3 linked regions of the Homo sapiens genome follow. The protein of the gene in region 1 purifies or fractionates together with the protein of each later gene. This does not show direct contact. Each region holds a gene or a part of one and is shown in the gene's direction. Other genes may lie near its edges.

Evidence for each region.
Region 2: the proteins of ZMYM5 (region 1) and RPS6KA3 purify together in Homo sapiens (affinity purification with mass spectrometry; 2 studies listed by BioGRID and IntAct, with this or other methods). This does not show direct contact.
Region 3: the proteins of ZMYM5 (region 1) and RPS6KA2 purify together in Homo sapiens (affinity purification with mass spectrometry; 2 studies listed by BioGRID and IntAct, with this or other methods). This does not show direct contact.

What each region holds. Positions count from the first base shown.
Region 1 is NC_000013.11:19,832,650-19,839,649, reverse strand, and holds part of ZMYM5 (zinc finger MYM-type protein 5), read left to right. Parts: intron 1-664; coding exon 665-950; intron 951-1,828; coding exon 1,829-1,994; coding exon of another isoform or gene 1,995-2,105; exon of another isoform or gene 2,106-2,186; intron 2,187-3,960; coding exon 3,961-4,173; intron 4,174-7,000. UniProt on the Homo sapiens protein: Functions as a transcriptional regulator.
Region 2 is NC_000023.11:20,256,873-20,263,909, reverse strand, and holds part of RPS6KA3 (ribosomal protein S6 kinase alpha-3), read left to right. Parts: intron 1-7,037. UniProt on the Homo sapiens protein: Serine/threonine-protein kinase that acts downstream of ERK (MAPK1/ERK2 and MAPK3/ERK1) signaling and mediates mitogenic and stress-induced activation of the transcription factors CREB1, ETV1/ER81 and NR4A1/NUR77, regulates translation through RPS6 and EIF4B phosphorylation, and mediates cellular proliferation, survival, and differentiation by modulating mTOR signaling and repressing pro-apoptotic function of BAD and DAPK1.
Region 3 is NC_000006.12:166,428,215-166,435,251, reverse strand, and holds part of RPS6KA2 (ribosomal protein S6 kinase alpha-2), read left to right. Parts: intron 1-2,761; coding exon 2,762-2,851; intron 2,852-4,640; coding exon 4,641-4,799; intron 4,800-7,037. UniProt on the Homo sapiens protein: Serine/threonine-protein kinase that acts downstream of ERK (MAPK1/ERK2 and MAPK3/ERK1) signaling and mediates mitogenic and stress-induced activation of transcription factors, regulates translation, and mediates cellular proliferation, survival, and differentiation.

The sequences.
Region 1 (7,000 bases):
AATGCCAGCACTTTGGGAGGCTGAGGCAGGTGGATTACTTGAGGCCAGGAGTCCGTGACCAGCCTGGCCAACATAGTGAAACACCCTCTCTACTAAAAATAGAAAAAAAAATTTAGCTGGGTAATCCCAGCTACTCGGGAGGCTGAGGCAGGAAAATCGCTTGAACCTGGGGGGCAGAGGTAGCAGTGAACCGAGATTGTGCCATTGCACTCCGGTCTGGGAGAAAGAGCGAGATTCTGTCTCAAAAAAAAAAAAAGTAGCTAATATTTTTTGAGTGTGCCTGTGTGCCAGGCATTACTTTTATGTCATGTGTTCTTCATAGCACTCTGATGAGTTAGGTATCATCAATTAGTATATTTGTATAATATTACATTCAGGAGATCTTTGAACCTGGAGTCTGACTTAAGAGCCGATGGCTACCACATTACACAATTCCAGACGCCAACATTTACTTTATTATTATTGTTGGCACAGTGGAGTATCATTCACTTGAGATACAAAGTGGATAGTCCCCCTGGGATTGTGCATCAAGAGTGTTTGGCCTTAACCACATGTTTATACGCCTGCCCCACTTGTCTCTTAAACTCTTAAATGAAAATGCAAGTTATTTTTCTGATGTACATTTTGATTTGTTCCATGATTTTTTTCTTGTTTCATTTTTAAGATTCTTGGATCTCCCAGTCAGCTTCATTTCCCAGTAATCAGAAACAGCCAGGGGTGGATTCTTTATCACCAGTGGCCTTACTTCGTAAGCAGAATTTCCAGCCTACAGCCCAACAACAACTTACTAAACCAGCTAAAATCACTTGTGCAAATTGCAAAAAGCCTTTACAGAAGGGACAGACAGCTTATCAACGAAAAGGATCAGCTCACCTCTTTTGCTCTACCACCTGCCTTTCTTCCTTCTCTCATAAACGTACTCAAAACACACGAAGCATAATATGTAAAAAGTAAGCAGTACCTTTCAACATTTCTCCACATAGTTGAATACTAATGGTATAAATAAGTACTCAATATAACTGCAGAGCTGGATAGATTTATGGGTAGAATTGTTGCAGGAGTGTCTTCAAGTTTATTGAGCTTGAGCTCCTAGAATATATCCAAGCTGTGGACTCGTATGTGCTGTATTTACTCTCGGCAGAAAAATGGAACATAGGTTTGGAAATCAATTGCCCCTCTCCCTGCTACTACATTTGCCTCCCCTGCTCCCCCATCTTAACACCTTAGTTCTATGAATTTATTACCAGCATTTTGGTTTGTTGGTTTGTTTTTGAGACGGAGTCTCACTCTGTTGCCCAGGCTGGAGTGCAGTGGCACGATTTCCACTCACTGCAACTTCCACCTCCCAGGTTCAAGCGATTCTCCTGCCTCAGCCTCCCGAGTAGCTGGGATTACAGGTGCGCGCCACCACGCCCAGCTAATTTTTTGTATTTTTAGTAGAGACAGGGTTTCATCATTTTGGCCAGGCTGGTCTCGAACTCCTGACCTCAAGTGATCTGCCCACTTCAGCCTCCCAAAGTGCTGGAATTACAGGTGTGAGCTACTGTGCCCAGCCTATTACCAGCATTTTTGAATGCATCTAAAAATCTTAAAAACTTGTGGCAAGGTTCTTGTGCTACGAAAGATTTTTATCTCTGACTCTTCTCTTTCTGTATCATTTAAGAACTCTTGGCAATAAAGCCAAAAGTGGATTTGCTGCATCTAAAAGTTATACTTGATTTCTAGTATTAAATCATAAGAAAATGAAAAATGGCAATTATTATTAATATATTTGACTTGTATTAAAATTCAGTGTTCTTAAATTATGTGTCTATCCCTTCTGTTTCAGAGATGCATCTACAAAGAAGGCTAATGTCATTCTTCCAGTAGAATCAAGCAAATCCTTCCAAGAATTTTATAGTACATCTTGTTTGTCTCCCTGTGAAAACAACTGGAATCTTAAAAAAGGAGTTTTTAATAAGTCAAGATGTACAATTTGTAGTAAATTAGCAGAGGTCTGGATTTTTATACCTAAGTTGTTGTTTAGGCTAACAGTGATAATTTTAACTTTTAAGTGCTATTATGTACTCTTTCATCTACATAATGCACGTGTTCTGGATGTATAACATGAAGCTGAAAGGAAGAATAAGGATATGTTAGAACTATCTTATGGGATATTTTATAAATAAAATTCCATTTGCATAGCATGGAAAGTACACATCTGTTTCTATGGAATTGTTGTGCTCATAAACAAGGCAATTGTTTTATGGTGGATTTTGTTATTACTGATGACATTAAATAAAAATGTAGTCTCAAGAGTTGGGGGTCAAGGGCTGGAAAACTACCCCTTGGGGCCGGACGTGGTGGCTCACATCTGTAATCCCAGCACTTTGGGAGGCCGAGGCAGGTGGATATCTTGAAGTCAGGAGTTCGAGACCAACCTGGCCAACAGGGTGAAACCCAATCTCTACTAAAAATACAAAAATTAGCTGGGTGTGGTGGCGCAAGCTACTTGGGAGGCTGAGGCAGGAGAATCGCTTGAACCAGGGAGGCGGAGGCTGCAGTGAGCTGAGATTGCGCCACTGTACTCCAGCCTGGGTGATAGAGCAAGACTCTGTCTCAAAAAAAGAAAGAAAAAAAAAAAAACAAAAAACAACATACCCATCTAACAAACCTGCACATGTATTCCCTGAATCTAAAAGTTAAAATTAGAAAGCAGCAGATCCCGGTACAAGAACACATGGAACAAGTGGAGTGAATGTATGCTGTTTGCTTAACATTCAGTGATATTGCAATCTTCCCATTTCCTAGAAGAGAAGAAACATGCATGCAGGCAGTCCTCACTTTATAAAAGTCTTTGGTAACTAAATTTGGTGTTGGTTACCCCTGAGTCATGCATATCAAGAACATGATTTTATCTCAGTTACCACAGTGAGAACTACCCTGCTTCTGGTTATACAGACACGATCCTGAATACAGATAATATTGATTCCCTTAGCTCCCTCCACAAATGTTCTAGGGCAGTGAACTTTACTTACAATACCATCTAAAAATTGTTGATCCTTGTTGATGAGTGACTCATACATATAATCCCAACTGCTTAGGAGGCTGAGACAGGACAATCACTGGAGTCCAGGAGTTTGAGGTGGAGTGAGCTATGATTGTACCACTGCTTTCCAGCCAGGGTGATAAAGCAAGAGACACTATCAAAAGAAAAAAAAAGATTGTTGACCCATTTCCTTTAAGCGGGTCATGTCAAAATCTTCTAAACCAAAGTCAGGTGTGGTGCTGCAAGCCTGTAATCTGGGCTATTCAGGAGGCATGAGTAGAGGGCTTGCTTGAGACCAGGAATTCGAGCCCAGGGCAACATAGCAAAAACTTGTCTCAAAAAAAAAAAAAAAGTTCATTATCTGTTGTTATTAAATGTCTTTAGGGAAGTTATTATTGATTTTATTGCTTTCCTATGAATCTTGTCCTCTTTTGTGAAATCAAAGTGATCTTACAAATAAAGGAAAAAATAAAATATGCTTTTTAAAAATCTTTTCCCAGCTAGGCATGGTGGCTCATGCCTGTAATCCCAGCATGTTGGGAGGCCAAGGCGGGCAGATCACTTGAGGTCAGGAGTTCGATACCAGCCTGGCCAACGTGGTGAAACCCCGTCTCTACTAAAAATAAAAAAATTAGCTGGGCGTGGTGGCGGGCGCCTGTAATCCCAGCTACTTGGGAGGCTGAGGCAGGAGAATCGCTTGAACATGGGAGGCAGAGGTTGCAGTGAGCCGAGATTGTGCCACTGCACTCCAGCCTGAGTGACAGAGTGAGACTCTATCTCAGAAAAAAAAAAAAATCTTTTCCCTGGGTATATCTTCCTCTGAGATATGATTAGGGATTCTTTGCTTCTATTGCAGAAACTAGTTATCTCATTGCTTGCTATGCTAATCTGGTTCATATATCTTAGTTAATGAATTCTGGTTTTTCTTTTAGATTCGCCATGAAGTCAGCGTAAATAATGTAACACATAAACTGTGCAGTAACCATTGCTTTAATAAGTACAGATTGGCCAATGGTCTAATAATGAACTGCTGTGAACACTGTGGAGAGTACATGCCTAGTAAGAGTACTGGAAACAACATCCTGGTGATTGGAGGTCAGCAGAAGAGATTTTGCTGCCAAAGTTGTATTAACGAATATAAACAGGTAATTCTTTTTCATGAGCTTTAAATGATCAAATATATAGTAGCTTCACCCTTACATCTTACATGAACCGGATTTATCTTAGAATCTCATTTAATTCCATTTTGCCATTCTGTCATTGGTTTGTCCCATCTCAAATATTCAAGTCTAAGATTGTTGTAAGCTTGTTTTAAAAATTTTCTTTGGGCTGGGTGCAGTGACTCACTTGTGTAATTCCATCATTTTGGGAGGCTGAGGTGGGAGGATTGCTTGAGCTCAGGAGCTTGAGACCATCCTGGGCAGCATAGTGAGACGTAATCTCTACTAAAAATTTTTTAGAATTAGCCGCAGGCATGATGGCATGTGCCTGTAGTCTCAGCTACTTTGGAAGCTGAGGTGTAAGTATTGCTTGAACCTGGGAGATTGAGGCTACAGTGAACTATGATTGTACCACTGCACTCCAACTAGGCAACAGAGCGAAAGCCTGTCTCAAAAAAAAAAAAAAAGAAAGAAAATGATCAGGCACAGTGGCTAACACTTGTAATCCCAGCACTTTGGCCAAGGCAGGCAGATCACTTGGGGCCAGGATTTTGAAACCAGACTGGGCAACATGACAAAACCCCCTGTCTACTAAAAATACAAAAATTAGCCAGGCGAGTTGGTGTGTGCCTGTAATCCCAGCTACTTGGGAAGCTGAGGCATAGGAATCACTTGAACCTGGTAGGCAGAGGTTGCAAACCCGAGATCATGCCACTGCATTCCAGCCGGGGTGACAGAGCAAGACTCTGTCTCAAAAAAAAGAAAAAGGTTACTCCTGGATGAATTTAAAAGACTAATTTTTCTTCTGTACCATTTAGCACTCCCACTAAGCACTTGATAATTCTAGTTGCTCTACATTCTGACCAAAATTTGGAGCCAGGTGAGGTGCTTCACGCCTGTAATCCCTGCACTTTGGGAGGCCCAGGTGGGAGAATCAGCTGAGGCCAGGAGTTCAAGACCGGCCTGGTCAACATAGCCAGACCCTGTCTCTACAAAAAAAAAAAAATTAAAATGTGGTAGTTGTCTGTTTTGTCTATCAGGTCTTCAGCCCATTTTTTATTGAATTCTTTTTGTTACTGAGTTGTAGGAGTCCTTGGTATTATTCTGGATACATGTATTTTATAAAATAAATATATTTGGAAAAAAATTTTTTTTCTTCTGTTTTTTTTTTAAAAGAAAAAATAGGCTGGACGTGGTGGCTCACGCCTGTAATCCCAGCACTTTGGGAGGCCAAGGCGGATGGATCACCTAAGGTCAGGAGTTGGAGACCAGCCTGACCAACGTGGCGAAACCCCGTCTCTACTAAATACAAAAAAAATAAGCCGGGCATGGTGGCTGGCACCTGTAATCCCAGCTACTCTGGAGGCTGAGGCAGGAGAATCGCTTGAACCTGGGAGGTGGAGGTTGCAGTGAGCGGAGATTGCGCCATTGCGCTCCAGCCTGGGCAGCAAGAGCAACGCTCTGTCTCAAAAAAAAGAAAAAGGAAATACAGGTGGGTCTCAATATGTTGCCCAGGCTGGTCTCGAACTCCTGGGTTCAAGCAGTACTCCCACCTCAGCTTCCCAAAGTACTGGGATTATAGGCATGAGCCATTGTGCCTGGCCGGAAGATTTTCTTTCAGACTGATTTGTCTTTTCATTTTCTTAATGTTTTGTTTTGTTTTCCTAATATTACTTTTGAAAAGTACAAGATTTTAATTTTTATAAGTCCTATTTATTATTTGCTTCTCTTGTGATTAATAGTTTTTGTGTATTTAAGGAATCTTTGCCCACCAAAATTACAAAGATATTTTCCTACATTTCCTTCTAGAATCTTTTCAGTTTTAGCTTTTATTTTTTAGGCCTGTGATTCATTTTGAATTAATTTTGTATATGGTGTTAGATGTGGGTTAAAGAATTATCAACTTCCTGACTTTAAGACATTAAAATGCTGCAATAATCAAGGCAGTATGGTTTGGTATATAAACAAATGGGCTAACAGAGATCAGTGAAATAGAAGATAGTCCAGAAATAGAACCACATAGTAGATTTTTCAAGAAGGTACCAAATTATTCTGATGGGAAAAACAAGATTTTTTAACAAATTATGCTGAAATAATTTTTTGTTTGTGTGGAAATAAATGAGCCTTGACCCCTTTTCATTGCATACACAAAAATTAAGATAGATCATAATGTAAAACTGGAAATATTCTTAACCCCCATTTCACTGGATGAGAATTTAATTGGTTAGCTTCAAGGGAAAGTAACCCTGAATTGCTAGGCTTTTATCGAACAGGAGAAACAGTGGATACCCATAGTTGACTTTTCTGTTTATTTTTGCAAGAAAACCTTATTTATGTTAAATTATTTTTTCTTTACATATATTGCACCTAATATTTAAGAAAGCTTTTGGTTTATAGAAGAACACAATGAACATTAACAAATAGAAAGGTCCAGGCACGGTGGTACGTGCCTGTAATCCTAGCACTTTGGGAGGCCAAGATGGGAGGATGGCACTAGTCCAGGAGTTGGAGACCAACGTGGGCAACATAGTAAGACCCCATCTCTACAAAACAATTTTTTTAATTAGCCAGATATGGTGGTTGTACACTCGTAGTTCTAGCTCCTCAGGAGACTGAGGTGAGTGAGCTATGATTGCACCATTACACTCCACCCTGGGCAACAGAATGAGACTATCTTTAACAAAACGAAATTTAAAAAGACTTAATATTGTTAAATTGTCTTTTCAAAGACAGTTACATGACAAAAGTAACCTACTGACCTTCTAATTTGGAAATAAAAACTATATTAAGTCTTAATATTTTCCAAGCCTTT
Region 2 (7,037 bases), on another chromosome or scaffold:
TCAGGATTGGTCTGTGTAGGAGTTTACATTTATGGTCTCATCCCTAGTACACTGTGAATTCTTGAAAGCAGACATTTTTCCCCCCCTCTCTGAATCCTCAGCATTCAGCACAATGCCTGGCCCTGACATATTGTGGACTTAATAAATATCTGCTGAATGAATCATGAAAGTCAGGAATAGGATGATTATGAATCTTATCTGTTTTTTATCATTTTAATCTCATTAAAATATGAACAATTTAAAAAGACCTCAGTGCCTCAGTAAAAACACAGGCAGTTTCTTCAGTTCCTTTACACTGGCCTTCCTGCTTTAAGACCTCACACGAATCTCATGGTGTTCAAAACAAAAAAACCCTTGTGGTTAAACTCAAACGTGGGTCAGAACATGATAGGCTAGAACTAGGCCAAATGTTTAAAGAAGCAAATTTAGGATAATAAAGGAAGTACTATGTAAGCAAAGTAAGGGTTGGTACAAGATAAAAAACAAACTAGCTTCCTAACTGGTCTAGGTGAACTCTTTAGTGAGTTACTTAAAGATGCTAATATGCTTTTGAATATTTGACTGTTTAGAGGATGGATAGGTAGGAATTATGGCTCTTCTGTTGTACAAATTCTTTGCCAGTGCTGTCAGAGACAGCATTTAGTGGATCATAAGCCTGACCTAGAGTGATACTTTTTTCTCCACTGCAATAGAGTAGGTATAAATGATAGTAAATCTAAATATGAAGTTTTCAAAATGATAAAATTATGGAGGTTATTTTTGTTTTATAGAAATGTGTTATATAAAATAGCCACAATATAATGTGTTGTATACAATGTGTATTAAACAATGTGTTGTATGAAAATAGCTACCTCGACTTCCTTTAAATAACAGGTACCCATGATGCACTGAAAAATATTTAAAAAATCAACTATATAAGTATTTTATTATAGAAAATGAGGCCTTTGTGTGGGAGATCATGTTTAGTGAATGTGCAGCCATTTTTAACCTCAAAGATTATGTAGTATTCTATAGTATAGTACATAGATTTTATAGTATTTCTACTATATCAATATTATATAGGTTTCTTATTTTATCTATAGGGAAAATGCTCTATTAAAGTATAATCATTGATTTTGAAAAAAAATGTTTTATTGTTTCTTTTCCTTTTCCTGTTTTATTTTTACCACCTTTCAGGTTTTTTTCTTTCCCCTAAGTGAAGATCTGAGGAGAGGACAGGTATTGTTACATGTCAACTGTCAAGTAACTGTGACCCATTACTGAACACTTCATTGTTTTCAGTGATTATGATAGAGGATGTCAGTTTTGTAAAATCTAGAAAACTTTGCTTTATTTTGGCAGCTTGATCCTGTAGTAATGGGGTAGATTCAAAATGTGAAACTTGCTGGATGCATTTAAATTTTATTAATAAAACTTTTATCTAATTGCAGGAGCAAATATAGGCAGACTTTGTCTTCTCTTTAGTATACATTTCTGGAAACCACAATAAGTATATCTTATTTTTAATAAGACAGGTGGCATAATTGGACTGTGTACTCCTGACCAAGGACTTGACATTTGCTAAATTATAGAATGACCAAAAATACAGATCACTTATCTAGAAGTCTGAGTTGCAGAACAATTGTCCTAAAGTTTTTAAAAATTTTTATTACTAAGAAATTCATACCATTGTGATAATTAACAAGATTTGCTCTACAGTTCAATGCTCAGGGACATGTGATCTGCCAGGCTGTGAATGATGGGTAAGGTCACACTTGCCTGGTTGACCCAGTGCAGAATGGGTGCTTTAGACCCAACGGTTCAGATTATAATGAATGACACACTGACATGGTGGTGGTCTCACTGGTAATGCCTGCGTGTGATAGTGCTCAGTTGTTTATGTGCTTTGGTGGATAACACATTTTAAAGCATTGAAATGCAGCTGTGCAAGTACATATATTATACATCCCGTTCCCCAATTCACATAAATAGAAAAAAACAAGTATCTAAATTGTAATACCTAGCATTCAATGTCTTCCTTCCACCCCACTCCCATCAGTGTGTTCTTTTGGAATTAATACAGTGACCTGTATCATTAACCTGGAGATATCAGATCTCAGATATTCTAGTTTATCAGTTAAACACCAAAAAGCATTAAAACAAAGAAAAACTACCCTATTTAATCGTTCAGTAAAAACTACCATATTTAATCATTAAGTTTTGTCATGATTTAGCAAAACAAACGCAAATGTGTGTGTGTCTGTGTGTGTATGTGTTTTATAAAACAGGTTCAGGATAAAATGTATCCATATAGCACATTATGATTATTTTAATACATTTGGCCTATTTATTTTTTGACAGTTTATCAAGTTGTACAATTTAAAAGCCAATATTTATTAATCCCTAATGTACAGAAACATAGGAGGAAGTTGTCTCTTTGGTTAAACAAACTGTTGAAAGATAAACTTTGGCACACCAAAATGTTTACTTTTCAATTGATAAATAATATTTGTACATTTTTATGGGGTCATGTGATATTTTGTTCCATGCATAGAATGTGTAATGATCACATCAGGGTATTTGGGATATCCATTAATCATTTCTGTGTGTTGGGAACATTTCAAATCCTCTCTTTTAACTATTCTGAAATATATAAAACATTGTTATTAACTATAGTCACCCTACTCTACTCTGCTATCCATTGTTAGAACTTATTCCTTCTATCCAATTGTATGTACTGTGCCCATTAACCAACCTTTCTTCACCCCCACCCCCTCTGTAACCCCCACACTCGTCCTATCCTCTAGTAACTCTCATTCTGAGTAGAAACTCCCTACCTATGAGTCCCACGTGTGAGTAAGAACATGCAGTATTTGTCTTTTTGTCATGTGACCTATTTTAAGCAAATACATTAGTTACTAGTAATTAAGTAATTTGGTTTTTGCTCATTCTTAAAACTTAGAAGGGACTTTGTGGGGTTATTTGGATTAATAGCAAAGTGTTAAAGAACATAAGCTCTGGAGCCATAAAGACCTGTGTTTGAGTCCTGGCTCTGCCACTTAATAACTTTGTAACCCTATGCAAGTTATATTTAATATCTCTATACTTCAACATCCTAATTTGTAAAATAGGGATGAAAATAATGTCTACCTCATAGAGTTTTGGTGAGAATTAAATGAAATGATAATATATGTAAAGTACTTGGTTCAGTACATGGTTTAAGTTTTTAATAAACAATAGTTACAATGAATCATCCCTCTTAAAGAACTGTCTCAGTTCTTTGTTTTTCCTCTGGGGTAATTTTTTAGAATCCAGCAAAGCAATTAAAAGTGATTTATTTGATTGATCAGTTTAAATAGTCATGGTAATATCTGAACGTAATTGAAAGGGCAAGGGGAACAGAAATCTCTTTAATCTTACCCTTTTTGCATTGATCCCTTCCTCAGTATTGTCTTTAAAGGGAAAAAACAACATTGTGAAGAATATATGTGGAAGAAGGAAGAAAGGAAAGTTTGTTCACATTTTTAACATTGCTCAAATTGGAAGATGTCTCACAGTCCATGGGATGTCATAGTTTAATTAGCAGCATGTTTTTCCTTAACAATATATAAAATAATAGTGTATCTTACACTTGATTGTATCTTTTAATCAATGAAATATAGTGTATTCTGTATGTCTACCTCTTGAAGATAATGTGTCCCTGAAGAAATGGTTAAAGTCAGTTTATAGCATCAATAGGTAGAATTTTAACTTTCTTTCTAAAACATACCAACACAAAATGTGCACACCTTTTTATATTTTAGGATGAATCCGTTCTGTTAATTTTTAGGGAAGGAAATTAATATGTCACACCTCCTTCCCCATTACTATAAATACATTTGTTTTAGTTATTTCGAAATGCCATAGGGTAACTGGGTTTTCCTGTCTAGAAATGTAATCCTTTAGATTTTGTCTGTAATGTGGTGTTGGTTCTTACAGAACTCTAAATAGTATATATAGTATTTTTCAAGCCGAAAAGTCTCTGGAGATATGATGTTAAAAGGTGTATCCATGCCTCAAGAATCACCCCCCTCCAAAAAATAAGGTAGTGTGGCATAATCAAGTAAGTTGGGGAAATGTGGCATTAAATAAGATTTAACCTGTCTTTACTGTATAATTTAGAACTTTTAAGATGTTGTATACAATGAATCTGCAAAATGGATATGGCCCACGGCATTTGAGACTTGATGTCAGAACCCCTTTTTTGTAAACCATCTATTGAAGTCTCAGTGGACACAAAGTGCTTTGCAGAACACAGTTTTGGAAAGTCTGATAACTACAGTAACGCGATCCAGTATTGCCTGGAAATGAGCTGTTATGTTTAATTGACTATATTGAAGTGTTTTCTTTAACTGTCAAGAGTTTTGTTTCATTTTGAATTGAAATCTTTCTAAATTAAATTGTATAAAAATGTTCCGTCTTAATAGTGAATATAAATTTAATAATAATTTAAATAAAAGTTAAAAATAATTTACACTTTTGATTCACTGTTCTGAAAATTAATGGTCATATTCTACTTAATATCAAGCTAATTGCCCCTACTAAATGGCCTGTACCTTGACTGTTTCTGTAACTTATGTCTAATATTTGTAGTTTAAAAATTCTCTTATATGCCACTTTATGCCACTGTTAATCTGCTTTTCTCTCCCATTTTCCTGTTTAAATTAATTGCTTCTTGTTTTCACTTACTAGAGAATAGATAGCTAGGATTAGTAATATAAAAAAGTTACAGTTTCCAAATAATGTAAAATAGCATCCTCACTCTTTTTCTGGTCTCTGCTCATCATGTACAAATACCTCTGGGGTCAGGGGTATTTGCTGGGCATATTACCAAATAATAAATAGTGATTTTATGTTTTACATACCATAACAGAATGGCTCAATTGCTGACATTACCTGCCCTGCATATTTACCTTCCTCTCTTGAAGATGTCAGCTAGAAAGTAGAACATGAATGAACTAAAAAACAGGCAGCTTTAAATTGAAAGCTAGCCTACTGCCCTGCCTGGAGTCACATCTCCACATTGTGAGTCCTTTTCTGTTGTTCTCATAAAGTAGTGCTAGTTTCCTAAATATTTGTTACTCTACACGTAGGTGTAAATCTAAAAGCACTTTTAGATTTCTTGTCATAGTAGAATTACAACCATAAGTTAAATCGAATTTTCCCATCTTAACTAATATATCCATGGTCTCTTATATAACTTAAAAACTTGTTTTGTCCACCATATAAATTGATTTTTATAATCTTACATATGGTGATAATCTCATCTTCAAATCTGACCTGGTCATTTAGATTTCTGTGAGCTTGTCTCTAATTCTTTGGGCCACAAAGCTTGTCCTAGGAAACTTGGTTCAGTCATTTGATATGTGTTAGAAGCAGATGTCAAATGATAGCCTGAAGCAAAAGATCATTTTGACATTAATAGATTGAAATGCATCTCAAGTGCAGTGGTTTGGGATAAATCTTCACTCCAGAAATCTTGTAAAACCTGTGGCAAAAATCTCAGCTACCTAGAATGTTACTTCATTTCTTCACATTTAGGAACAGAGGCATCTATCTGAAAATAATGTAAAATAATAAAGATTTACTTAAAATCACAAAAAATTTCTGGATCAGCACTGTTTAGTACAGTAGCTGCTATCTATATGTGGCTGTTGAGCACTTGAAATGTGGCTAGTGTGGAAGTGAACTTTTAAATTTTATCTAATAGTCACCAGTGGCTATTGGCTACCATGTTGAACAGTACAATTCCAGATTACAGGATTAGTACAAATTGAATGCATTTTTTACACCAGTGTTTTTTCATTTCTACCTTGTATGATTTGTATCTTGAAATTAATAGGCTAAACCTTTTCTAAAAACAAATATTTAACATGCTTTTTCAAATTATGTTTAATCAGGTTAGTTTTGTCCTTTTCTACCCTGAAGATTCTGATAAACCCTCTAGGGTGGTACATACCCCACAAATCACCATTCTACTCTTCCTACAGCTTTAATAGTTTTACTGTGACATCTCATTCAAGTGATAACACTAAAGCATTGGGGCAAATTTAAATATCAAAAAATGTTGTAATTACAAGTTTCCTCTTGTGCACCGAGCTTACAGACCGAGACATAAACAGTAAGACTAATGTCTCTGGGGAGAAAAATATACAATTATCTTCTATATTATTGGATAAATAAATTACTGTATGGTAATTTGTTTAAATATTGTGTTGCATTCACTGTACTGTGCTAGTTAAAACGGAAAAAGTGGATTGGTGCATTTTGAAATATGAAAGCATTTAAATTTTTTTAGCATATAATTTTAGAGAACAACTTAGCCCTACCCTATTTATGTAAGAAAATTGAGACCTGTTCAGGCAGACCTGCTGCAGGTGATATGTTAACAAAGTCAGAGTTGGCGTGTGCAGCACATTTATTTCACTAAAATTCATTTTGTCATCCACATCATATCAATACAACTCTTTAATTTTATGTAAACTATCTTAAATACAAATTCTGAAAGAGCCACAATGCACAAAAGTTCAAATATTACTTTTTCTCTACTCTCTGCTAATTTTAACTCGTAAGTCTGGAAAATACAGTCCTTAGTTTACAAAAACAACTTCAGAATGTTCCTACCTACAAACCAAGGGTGAGGGGTACGTTAAGATCACTGCTCTTTCTTTCCCAAGTGAAGATGGAAGGAAGCTCACGTCTATTGAGTGCCCCCCTTGACAAGTCACTTTGTGTATATCAACTTGAATGAAGTATACAGAATTATCCTCAACTTACAGATGAGGAAACTGAAGCCTAGAAGGGTTAAATAACGTGCTCATGGTTGCCCAGCTAGTAACTGAAGGAGCCAGAATTCAAACCCAAGTCTCACAGATTGCAAATTCTAATGACTTTTCACTACACAGCCCTGTTTGAGTTGAGAACATCCAGGTGAGTGACTCAGTCTAAATGAAATCTGCTACAGGGGAAAAAGGTTCCAGGTAGTTTACATGGGTAGCTATTGTGGAGATGTAGAGAAT
Region 3 (7,037 bases), on another chromosome or scaffold:
ATACTTATCATTGTAAGTCAGAATTTTTCTGAAGACTCACAACAAAAGAACACATAGAAATAAAATAGATACTAGGGTTGAGAGGGCAGCCATCTGTAGTCCCAGATTCTTTAAAATAATAGTCACGTTGTCCTGCAATTTCAGCTTACAAAATAGTAAGCTGAAATTTTGGAATTCTTTATTTCATATTTTGAATAGACAATATATTCTTGTGGTTCAAAATTTTTAAAAATTCATGTGGATACAGCAAAGTTTCCCTCCCACCCATGGGCCCCCAGGCACCCTGTTCCCCTCCTCACAGGAAGGCAAGGCAATTAAATGTTTCCTCCTTCCTTCCAGGGTTATTTTATGCACCCACAAGGAAATGGATGCGTCTATCTGCATTCTTCTCTCCATTTTTAAAACAAGGGATGGCGTAGGATGCACCTGCTCGCGTCGGCCTTTTTTACTCCTTGTATCTTGAAGATGGTCCGTGGCGGTGGAGAAAAAGCTCCCACTTTCTTGTTTACTCTGCATCTTGTTCCACTGTGAGAGTGATAAAACAGATTCATGCTAAGAACACATCCCTTTATCATGAAATCATATTTGCGAAAAAATCTTCTACTGAATTCTTTTATAAATTTATAAATGTATTTTAACCTTCTCTAATTGCAAAGACAGGATCCCGGCCCCGATAGACGGGATGCCCACAGGCAGACAGGAGCAGAGGAGTTTGGGTACCTGACAGCCAGCTTCCCTACAAGCAGTGCAGGACCAGCCTCCCAGGACCTGCTTAGGCTGTGGCATGTTAGGGAAAGTCCCCCACCCCTCCTTGAATGATCGTTTTAAAAGTCTCTACTTGAGAATGATGCATTTATGTTGGCAATAGAATTAGTCCTAGTGTCCTAGCTAAAACTTCAGTAGAATTAAATGCAGCAGAAGGAGAGAAATTCTATGTCCAGAAAGGGACCCTAACTCTTCTGCCTGTTTACAACGCAGGCTATTAGGACTCACAGATCATGGGCCACTGATGCAGTCACAGCTGAATGGTGGCCGTGGCAGAGCATCCTTTGAAACTATAATGGGGTGAGAACTGGCACTATGGTGAGTTTTTATAACGGTGACGGGGAGTGGACGAAGGGTGACCAGGGGACAGATTATGAGCAGTGAGTCAAATGCTACCCAAGCGTTTGGTTCTCTAAAGTAAAGAAATAGCCAGGTGTAGTTGCTCATGCCTGTAATCTCAGCACTTTGGGAGGCTGAGGCAGGAGGATCACTTGAAGCCAGGAGTTAGAGACCAGCCTGGGCAACACAGCAAGACCCCATCATCTCTACAAAGAATTTAAAAATTAGCTGAGTAGGGTGGCACACACCTCTGTAGTCCTAGTTATTCTGGAGGCTGAGGCAGGAGGATCACTTGAGCCCAGGGGTTTGATGTTGCAGTGAACTATGCTTGTACCACTGTATTCCAACCTAGGCAACAGAGTGAGACCCTGTCTCCAAAAAAAATTAACGAAATAGAGTTTTATGCAAAGCTCTGCCTAGAGACTTTGACATGATAGAAGTTAAAAGCAAGTCACCCTCATATTCTAGTAGTAAAATGACTGCACGGTCTCCAAATAGAGACTATTTTAAAATTAGGTTGAACTAATGTGAGAATAGTACAAATCATGGTTAGGAAGGTGTTTCCAATCGCTTTTCTTCTGCTCTGAGTGTTGTTTGCAAAATACATGTTGCATGTTGCCAATTTCCCATGAGTGTGGTGCCCTCCTCCCACTGGTCCCGTCCCCACAGCAGGGGCGGCAAGGGCGGGACTTAGGCACCTCCAGAGGGATTAGCCACCAGGGACCAACAGCGACTTCCTGTTTCCAAGGTAGGCTTAAATCCCAACACCCTGTCCTCAGAAACCATATGTCTCCATGGGGTTGAAGCAACTTTATCTGTTATCCTAAGACATCGGATACAGATGCTGGGCGGGGGAGGGGAGCTTGCATATGTCTAAACAGCAAGGCAGGTCTGGCCTGCGCACCATCCCCAGCATCTCTTGGTGAGAGCCATGCGCCTCACCTCATTTTGTGGCTGGTTTGTAATTCCCGGAACAAGGCAGAAGGTGCACAGTGGCTGGAGGCTTGTTGTGGATGGTGCCCACTGCGAGGGTGGGACACAGTCTGTTATTTGGTGGCACTTGCATGAGCTCCCTACACGTGTCTCCACCCAACCTTATAACACCTTAAAATTCATGTCTGAAGTCTTGTACTCCTTTTTTTTTTTTTTTTTTGAGACAGAGTCTCGCTCTGTCACCCAGGCTGGAGTGCAGTGGCATTATCTCAGCTCCCTGCAACCTCTGCCTCCCAGGTTCAAGTGATTCTCATGCCTCAGCCTCCTGAGTAGCTGGGATTACAGGCACACACCACCATGTCTGGCTAATATTTGTATTTTTAGTAGAGACCAGGTTTTGTCATGTTAGCCAAGCTGGCTGGTCTTAAACTCCTGACCTCAAGCCACCTGCCCACCCCGGCCTCCCAAAGTGCTGGGATTACAGGCATGAGCCACCTTGCCCAGCCTGTACTCCTCTTTGTAGATGTAAATCTTACACTAGTTGTCAAAGAAAGGACTTGCCATGAATCTCCAGACAATCTCAGGTTATCTCTTGGTCGGGTGTGAGATTGTAGTGATTGGGCCACCTGGGGCCAGACTTTATCCAAACTCAATGGTCCACCAGCAGATACCACCCGAAAGCCTAAAGTAGACCCCTCACTGCCATGTGCTGTGTTTGTTCCAGATCATTGATAAGAGCAAGAGAGACCCCTCGGAAGAGATTGAGATCCTCCTGCGGTACGGCCAGCACCCGAACATCATCACCCTCAAGGATGTGAGTGGTCCCCGTGCAACAGCATCTCCACTTCCTTCTGTTTCTTCAACTGACACAAAACTCCCATTCACTCAGAGCAAGCTTTCTCACATCTCATGCCTGTCTCAGCTGGTTTCCACCACCCACATATCTCAGTCACTTGGAGCTGACTTGCTGGACTGTGTACTCAAGTCTTTTTGACAGCCACCGCCCCAGTCATGGAGGGAGCAAGTAAAACAGAGGAAGAGAGAGCTTGTGTGAATTACAGTCCACAGGCGGAGTCTCTCATAGAGGCCCATGGGGGTGCAGGGTTTGGGATCCGGGAGCACAGACAGGAGACAATTTTCCTCCTCACGCTCCAACTCCAAACTGATTCTAGCATTATGAACCTAGAGTCACAGGATATTGGGCCTACCTCAGTTTCCCTCATGCATAGTGACTGCTGCGTGCAAACGGTCTTAACATGCAAGCTTGGCATAAGAATAGCCCGAACAGGCCGGGTGCGGTGGCTCACACCTGTAATCCCAGCACTTTGGGAGGCGTAGGCAGGCAGATCACTTGAGGTCTCCTGAAGGCAGATCACTTTGAGACCAGCCTGGTCAACATGGTGAAACCCCATCTCTACTAAAAATACAAAATTAGCCGGGTGTGGTGGCGCACACCTGTAATCCCAGCTACTCCGGAGGCTGAGGCAGGAGAATTGCTTGAACCTGGGAGGTGGAGGTTGCACTGAACCGAGATTACACCATTGCACTCCAGCCTGGGCAACTGAGAGAGACTCCATCTCAAAAAATCGAAACATAAAAAGAATAATCAGAGCATATTGTTTTTATTTAGTTTATGAGATAAAAGCCAGTATGGAGAAAACTATCTTTTTCTATTGCTTCTCTGAAGCAACAGCACGGCTCTGATATGTAACTTCGCCCTGGACTCTGCCTAGCCTCTCTGTGCTCCCAGCGCCTGGCCACTCAGTGCTGTCCATGCGGTAGCAGCACAGACATCATGGGAAACTGGTTAGAAATGCGGAGGGCCAGGCCCCACCTCAGTCTGCAGGACCAGAACATGCATTTTAGCAAGATCCCCAAGATTGGATTGGATGCACGTTACAGTTTGAAAAGCACTGCCTTGAGGCCCTGCTCTTGCAAGGTGGTTTGCCAACATTTGCATTTCTTAACGTCTAAATATCTCCTGGCAGGCCAGGCACTATGGCTCACGCCTGTAATCCCAGCACTTTGGGAGGCTGAGGCAGGCGGATCACTTGAGGCCAGGAGTTTGAGTCCAGCTTGGCCAACATGGTGAAACCCTGTCTCTACTAAAAATACAAAAATTAGCTGGGCATGGTGACGTGCACCTATAATCCCAGCTACTCGGGAGGCTAAGGCAGGAGAATCGCTTGAACCCAGGAGGAGCTGGAGGTTGCAGTGAGCTGAGATGGCGCCACTGCACTTCAGCCTGGGTGACAGAGCGAGACTCCATCTCAAAAAATAATAATAATAAATAAATAACAAATATCTCCTGGCAGAGTCATGAAGCCATTCATCTCAGCTAAGGACACGCCCATCTTGTATGTCCTTACTCAGTCCCTGCTTAGCAGCAGATTATTAAAGCCGTTTTCTTCCTAAAAAGAGCACATATGGTATGACAGGAATGGCCATTTGCTTCTACCCTGCAGAAGCCTTGTTTGCACTCCCATAGGACCCTGTGGTCCCAGCCTCTCCCCTCTGACTTCCCTCTCCTGTCCCCTCTGGAGTAGTTGCTCTTTCACAGCAACCAGCCGTGGTGACGTGTGCGCCCCTTCTCCACTCCGCAGGTCTATGATGATGGCAAGTTTGTGTACCTGGTAATGGAGCTGATGCGTGGTGGGGAGCTCCTGGACCGCATCCTCCGGCAGAGATACTTCTCGGAGCGCGAAGCCAGTGACGTCCTGTGCACCATCACCAAGACCATGGACTACCTCCATTCCCAGGGGGTAGGAGCCATGCCTGGGGCAGCCTTCGGGGAGGAGGGAGCTTCAGGGCAGGAACCAAAACCACAAGGGTTTATGGGTTCAAGAGCTGAGAACGCGGATTGTCCTGGAATTCCTTCCGTGCCACCATCGTCTCTCTTGTGTCTGGAGGCTCAGTGACGGTGCAAGGGAAGAAAAATTCTCTTCCCAGCCGGGTGCAGTGGCTCACACCTGTAATCCCAGCACTTTGAGAGGCCAAGGCGGGCAGATCACGAGGTCAGGAGTTCGCGACCAGCCTAGCCAACATGGTGAAACCCTGTCTCTACTAAAAATAACAACAACAAAAAAAAAATTAGCTGGGCATGATGGCACACACCTGCAATCCTAGCTACTCGGGAGGCTGAGGCAGGAGAATTATTTCAACCCAGGAGGCGGAGGTTGCAGTGAGCTGAGATAGCACCATTGCACTCCAGCCTGCGTGACAGGACGAGACTCCATCTCAAAAAAAAAAAAAGAAAAGAAAAATTCTTTTTTCCCTCTGCCCATCTTAGTTCTTCGGTGGAGGCCCTATAAACAAGACTGGCCAAAGACAGGTTAACAAGAGAAAAACAGAAGTTTATTAACATGTGCATCTCACATACACACGGGAGCACCCAGCCATGAATAACTCCAAGGAGTTGTTAGAACTTGAGCTTATATAGCATTTTAACAAAAGAACAATAATTTTGCTGGATGCAGTGGCTCATACGTGTAATCCCAGCACTTTGGGAGGCTGATGCAGGTGGATCACCTGAGGTCAAGAATTTGAGACCAGCCTGGCCAACATGGCAAAACCCCATCTCTACTGAAAATACAAAAATTAGCCAGGCTTGGTGGCACACACCTGTAATCCCAGCTACTCAGGAGACAGAGGCATGAGAATCGCTTCAACCTGGGAGGCAGAGGTTGCAATGAGCCAAGATCACGCCACTGCACTTCAGCGTGGGCGACAGAGCAAAACTCTGTCTCAAATTTAAAAATTTTTTTTTAATTTTATTATTATTATACTTTAAGTTTTAGGTACATGTGCACAATGTGCAGGTTAGTTACATATGTATACATGTGCCATGCTGGTGTGCTGCACCCATTAACTCGTCATTTAGCATTAGGTATATCTCCTAATGCTATCCCTCCCCCCCTCCCCCCACCCCACAACAGTCCCCAGAGTATGATGTTTCCCTTCCTGTGTCCATGTGTTCTCATTGTTCAATTCCCACGTATGAGTGAGAACATGCAGTGTTTGGTTTTTTGTCCTTGCGACGGTTTACTGAGAATGATGATCTCCAATTTCATCCATGTCCCTACAAAGGACATGAACTCATCATTTTTTATGGCTGCATAGTATTCCATGGTGTACATGTGCCACATTTTCTTAATCCAGTCTATCATTGTTGAACATTTGGGTTGGTTCCAAGTCTTTGCTATTGTGAATAGTGCCACAATAAACATACGTGTGCATGTGTCTTTATAGCAGCATGATTTATAGTCCTTTGGGTATATACCCAGTAATGGGATGGCTGGGTCAAATGGTATTTCTAGTTCTAGATCCCTGAGGAATCGCCACACTGACTTCCACAATGGTTGAACTAGTTTACAGTCCCACCAACAGTGTAAAAGTGTTCCTATTTCTCCACATCCTCTCCAGCACCTGTTGTTTCCTAACTTTTTAATGAAAAGTGGTTTTGATTTGTGGTTTTGATTTGCATTTCTCTGATGGCCAGTGATGGTGAGCATTTTTTCATGTGTTTTTTGGCTGCATAAATGTCTTCTTTTGAGAAGTGTCTGTTCATGTCCTTCGCCCACTTTTTGATGGGGTTGTTTTTTTTTTTCTTGTAAATTTGTTTGAGTTCATTGTAGATTCTGGATATTAGCCCTTTGTCAGATGAGTAGGTTGCGAAAATTTTCTCCCATTTTGTAGGTTGCCTGTTCACTCTGATGGTAGTTTCTTTTGCTGTGCAGAAGCTCTTTAGTTTAATTAGATCCCATTTGTCAATTTTGGCTTTTGTTGCCATTGCTTTTGGTGTTTTAGACATGAAGTCCTTGCCCATGCCTATGTCCTGAATGGTAATGCCTAGGTTTTCTTCTAGGGTTTTTATGGTTTTAGGTCTAACATTTAAGTCTTTAATCCATCTTGAATTAATTTTTGTATAAGGTGTAAGGAAGGGATCCAGTTTCAGCTTTCTACATATGGCTAGCCAGTTTTCCCAGCACCATTTATTAAAT